2 separate regions of the Homo sapiens genome follow, and region 2 is linked to region 1. Evidence: fine-mapped expression QTL. A gene starts in region 1. The other region holds a variant in brackets. All regions are shown on one strand. Distances are between the middles of the regions. Region 1 holds the start of GOLT1A (golgi transport 1A). Region 2 has its middle 3.7 kb from the start of PLEKHA6.

Evidence for each region. PIP is the estimated chance that this variant, and not a neighbour inherited with it, causes the effect.
Region 2: its variant is fine-mapped to the expression of GOLT1A in sun-exposed skin (GTEx, PIP 0.93).

What each region holds. Positions count from the first base shown.
Region 1 is chr1:204,212,692-204,215,598 of GRCh38, reverse strand. It overlaps GOLT1A (golgi transport 1A), which reads left to right and starts at 1,611. Exons shown (of 5, transcript NM_198447.2): 1 at 1,611-1,717. The coding sequence starts at 1,693. RefSeq lists an enhancer at 1,084-1,740.
Region 2 is chr1:204,362,217-204,365,123 of GRCh38, reverse strand. It overlaps a transcript of PLEKHA6 not described here. Among named protein-coding and RNA genes, the nearest start is that of PLEKHA6, 3.7 kb to the right of the region's middle. RefSeq lists an enhancer at 1,766-2,319. The variant C/G (reference allele first, on the strand shown) is at 1,571.

The sequences.
Region 1 (2,907 bases):
AGCTATTTTGACAATACACACATACCTAAGACTGAGTTCCTTTGCATGCACATCATACTTCTATATTATCTCCACCTTGTGCTCTCTAATTTGCCTTGCTATGTTATCCCTATTTCAATTAAGATGCTTTCCCTCTCATCATATGCAAGTACGTCTGGTCTGTTATTCCTTATCTAACAGTTTTTATTCTATGTTCACTTCCTGCTACTCTTTCATTTTCTTGCATGTGTGTGATTTTTGTTTTTGCATAGAATGGCTCATCTTCTATTTCTCTTAAATTCAAACATATATTATGTGTGGGTGCAAGCAATCTGCCTATTTCATTTATGTCTTCTGGTAAGTCTTGCCTGAACATTTATATATTGAAAGACATCATGTTTTATTATAATTTATCTTTTTGTTTCTTTTTAAAAAATTATGTTAGCTTTCCTTGGTTTTGTTGTTGTTGTTTGGTTTGTTTTTTTTTGAGACAGGATCTCGCTCTGCTACCCAGGCTGGAGTGCATGGCTTGATCACAGCTCATCGCAGCCTCGACCTTCTGGGCTCAAGCAATCCTCCTACCTTAGCCTCCCCAGTAGCTGGGACTACAGGCAGGTACCACCACATCCGGCTAATTTTTTATTTTTATTATTGTAGAGACAAGGTCTCACTATGTTGCTCAGGCTGGTCTCAAACTCCTGGGCTCAAGCAATCCTCCTGCCTTGGCCTCCCAAAATGCTGGGATTACAGACATAATGCATTTTGTATGCCAGGCCTATTTGCATTTTTAAATGATGTATATAGGTAGTCTTTGAAATTCATTTCTTCATTTCTGGACACAGAAGACATTGCAAAGTGGATGTTGGCTCTCCTGGCATCAATGCCACGTCAGAACCACTGCTCTGCGATGGGAAAAAAGGATGTTAGGAACTAACTGCCTCTCTTTTTGCAGGCCCAAAGGACGAATCCATGTCTACACAGCTGGTGGGTAGACTAGAACCAGGCCTCCTAAATTGTGCAGTCCTGCCCCAACCCCAAATTCAGGGCTTTGTCTTCCATAGCTCAACATCACAGTCAGTCCAAAGCTTGGACGCCGCTTGGGGAAAGGAGGTCGAAGACCTTCACGTCTAACTTCCCCCATGGCGCTTTTGCCATTGATTTAACCCGATCTGGCTCTGCCATTAGGTCAACAACAGGCTTTGTGCTCAGTCGCTCATCGCCTCCCAGCGCCTAGCATGTGCAATAGCAGAGAGCAAAAAGCTTGACTTTCAAGATGAATTTAGTACATTCCCAAAGGGATGCGCAGATGCCAACTCTTCCCACACTATCAAACCAAGCAAGAAACTTGAGCACCCCCTAGATTCCAATGCTTCCACATACAATCTAAGTTTCGCGGAGCAGACGAGAGCCGCAGAACACCGCGAGGTGCGAGGAAAGGGTCAGGTGGGCGGTGCCTTCCCCGGGCAGGCGCGGCAGGTGGAGGGGCGGGGCATTGCCCTACCGGAAAACGGGAGGAGGGAGCTGGCGAGTAGAAGCACCTGCGTGGTGTGCGGGGGTGGAGCGGGGGCTGGAGGGAGAGTTAATGATTTGCCACAGGCTCATTTCGCAACTTAACCAAGGGTCAGCTTCCCGTGACCATGTACCAGCTGCGTCCTCTGGGCCACGCTCCACTTGCCCGCTTCCACCCGGAAAGCCCCCCAGGCTGAGTGCGGCATGATCTCCATCACCGAATGGCAGAGTAAGTGGGATGAGCGGGGCTGCAATGGGCTATCCAGGCCAGGCTCCCTGCCGGCTGGCTCTCTCTCCCAGCTGGGCTCTCTGTCACTACAAGCGTGACCTCTGGAGCCAGGGGCTGGGAGATGCTGTGCTGGCACCCTGGGGCAGCAGGCAGGGTGGGGTGTGGCTCCCTACCCTCCAGCGGGTGGGAGTTGCTCAGGGCCCACAGGTAGCTAGAGGCTGGTGCCCAGGGGGCCTGGCAGGTTCCCCATTCACACTGACCCCTTTCCCATCCCGGGTTCTTAGAACTGGGTTGCCACAAAGGTGGACTCAGGAGGCCTCTGCCCATTCAGACATCTTTCCCCACACCATCAAGGTCTCCTGTGGCCCTGGGGGCTTCTTATAAAAAACTAAACTCCACTCCCCTGACCAAACCACCATACCCTCACTCCTAAACATCCTTCCCCTTCTTTTGGGGGAAGAGGTAGGGAGGAGGTCTTGGAACAAGTCTGGGGCCATGGGAAGAACCGTGGCTCTGTGGGCTTCATTTGGGTGAGTTACTTAAAGCCTCTGAGCCTTGGTTTTTCATCTGAGAATTGGTGACAACATTCTTTTGTTCACTCAACAGATTTGTCTCTGCTGTGTGCCAAGCACTGTGTTGGATATAGAGTGTCCAACATTAAATGAAACTGACTCCCTGCTTACATTCTAGAGAGGGGAGACAGGTAATTAACAGAAAGAAGTATATAGTATATCAGAAGATGATAAGTCCTCCAGATGAAAATAAAACAAGAGGAGGCTATGGAGTTCGAGGTAGGAGGGGTCGCTATTTTATATAGAGTGGTCAGGGAAGCCTCACTGAGAAGGTGAGCCTTTATTCAGATCTTTTTTCAGAGATCTATAGGAAGTGAGGAAGCAAAGCCACGCAGCTCTCTGGAGGGGAAATGTTCAGGAAGCAGGGACAGGCAGTGCAAAGGCCCTGAGGCATTAGCATACTTGGTGTGTTTGAAGAACAACAAGGAGGTGGGTATACCTGGAGCAAAGTGAGGTGAGGGGAGAATCATAGGAGTTTAGGTCAGGGATGTCACTGAGGGGTCAGGACACTGGAGACTTATAGACCATGGTAATGACCTTGGTTTTGTGCTATGGTGTGATATGTTCTATTTCTATGTTTAAAAGATCATTCTGGGTGCTGGGTTGAGAATAGACTGT
Region 2 (2,907 bases), 150 kb before region 1:
CTCCTCTAGCCCTGCCAAATCACTTGTGGTTCCCTCAACATTCGCTTCCCTTTCATGCTTCCGGGGCTTTGTAGGTGCCAATCTCTCCTCATGTGGCTCATGCCCACCTGAGAACACTTGTTCTTCCTTCAAGCCCTGCCCATGATGTCACTTCTTCAGGGATGTGTCCGTGTATGGTAGTTATTTGCTTATACTTGTGTCATTTTCCACTAGATTAGTAACTCTCCAACTGGAGCGTGTATCACAATCACTGGAGGGTTTGTTGGAGCACAGATGGCTGGGCCCTACCCCTAGAGTTTCGGATTCAGAGGGTCTAGAATTTGCACTTCCAACACATTCTCAGGTTATGCTGCTGTGGCTGCTCTGGGGCCCACACTTCGAGAACCAGTAGCCTAGACTGAAAACTCATCAAGGGCAGGGGCAACACAGGGGGGTCGTAAAGTCCGGAGACACAGGCAATATTGTTTAATTATCAACCAGCCATGAATTCTGTGTTCACATACATTTCCAGACCTGGTGGTCATTCTGTATATCATAGCAGCAGCCGCCACTCTAGGAGCTAAGTGCTTTATGACATTATCTCATTTATTCCTCACCGCACCTTTATGAGGAGGTTCTATCATCCCGCTTTTAGCAAATAATGGGAAAACTGGTTCTTCGTATGTATTACTCAATGTCACAAAGCTTGTATTAATAGAAAGCAAGCGGGAAGGCGGCCTCATGTGTGCCTGATTTCACAGGCTTTGCTCTTAGCATGATGGCACGGCTGCTTCCCAGCATCCTTGGCACCTTGCTTGGACAAACGAAGTGCTCAGTAAGTTCTTGCTGAATGAGTGAGTGAATGAATGAACGACTGGCTCACCGTTCGTTCCTATTTTCACAGTTCCCACAAAGGTTTATGACATTTGGTTGGTGGATGAGTTAGAAACTCAAACGACTTCAGACATGGATTCCAAGTAATAATAAGAGCCAGACAACCGGAGGAGTTATTTTGTTTCTTTTAGTGTGGATGAGGGAGGGAAATTTCAATGAGCAAATATTGACATTTGCCCAGGAGCAGACAAATGTGTTAATTGTGTGTCAAAAAGCTCTTTCTTTCAGGGTATTTAGGAAGTGACTCTCATGGTATCCACAACAGACGTTTTGCTCGAGTGTGCGTGTGGTTTTGAAGGTGTCATTTACTGGGAAGAGTGGTGGGAGGAGGAGAGAACAAGCGAAAGGTTAAAACGTGGGAGAAACGCACTGCAAGCCTGTATGCACTTACCGCAAGAATCCACAAGAGGGCTCCAGAGCACACATGATGGCCCCACAAGGCTTTCAGGGGGTTTGCTCACAGCGTCTCCCCAGGCTGAAGGCGCCTTCTCGGAGGTGACAGGGCCACCTTTCCCATCCCCTGCCACCTCCCAGCCATAGTGGGTCTGGTAGCTGTCTTTCTGATGCTTAAAGATCTAGCTATGTAACACCCATTCCTGCCCAACAGGAAGTGTTCCCCCGCCCCCTTGTCTCCCTCCTCCGCGTTCCTGCGGAAGCCGCCGCCGGTGAAACTGGCCAGTTCTGTCCCCAAGGGTGC[C/G]TCTCTCCTTCCCCAAGGTTGACAGGGAGGGAGACGTGGCAGGACGCTTTCTGCAGAGCCACACCCCTGATAACCCGGTTCCCAAGCTGGGCCCCTGCGGCTCCTCCACCGAGGGAACCCCACCCAGCCGTTGGTCTTCCTTGTTCTGTTCTGGAAGCTTCCTCCAGGAAGGTGCGAGAATGTGCAGGCAGGCAGTCCACCCACGGCCCTGGCGCGCCTACGGGCTGCTCAGCGCTTCTTGAGGGGTTGCAGGGAGGCAGAGATCAGAAGCCCAGGTCTCTGCCCCGCGTGCTTCCAGGCTGGGCAGTGAGACCCCGGTGAGCCTCCAAGGCTGTGCTGGGTCTCTGGGATTCATCAGTACAGACCCCAACCCGAACTGCGAGACCCCGGAGGAGGGGCCCTGGGAGGGGCGGGGGAGCCACCAAAAGCAGTTCTGTTGTCTCCAGAAGGCAGACAGGACAGAGCACAGGAGTGCTGGGGCAGCAGTTCTGGTACAGTGACCCCACTAGCTCTAGGCTTAGAAAGGCAGATAACACCCCAGAACAGTAAAGAAGGAGGCGGCCGAGGAGAAAAGGTAGTGAATGTGCTGGGCTTCAAAGAAGCCCATTTGCAGGTGAGGAAAACAGGCTGGATAGTCAAGTAATTTGTTCAGTCAGTGAGTTACTCAGGGATGGAGCTGGGCTTCCAAGTCACACAGGTTATCGTTAGCCAGGCATGGTGGCTCACACCTGTAAGTCCCAGCAACTCAGTAGGCTGAGGCAGGAGGATTGCTTGAGCCTGGGAGATGGAGACCAATCTGGGCAACATAGCAAGACTCTGTCTGTAAAACAAACTAAAAAATTAGCTGCATGTGGTGGTGTGTACCTGCAGTACCAGCTACTTGGGAGGCTGAGGAGGGAGGATTGCTAAAGCCCAGGTAGAGGTGGAGGCTGCAGTGAGCTAGTTCATCCCACGGAGCTCCCTTTGCTGCCCCTAGTTGGCATGTTCTGCGAGGAAGAGAGACCCATGTGGATGCAGTTCCACTGAATGGGCAGTGAGCCAGTCAAGTTAGTGGCCACCAAGACTGTATGGTAGGGAGTGGGGATGGCACCAGAAAGGTGGGGAGGACCCGTGTGTTTGGAGACCATGAGTAGGTGCCTGGGAAGCTTGGACTTGATCCTCTGAGCAATGGGGACCAGTGATTGTAGAGCAGAGGAGAGACGGGATCGCAGAGGTGCTTTCTGTGGAATCCTCCCTCCCTCACGCCACCTCACGCCTTCCCCATTGGAGTTGTTTAGGTGAGGCTTGCTTCTCCTCTTCTGGGCTCGCAGAGCAAGAACTTAGATTTGGCAAAGGGA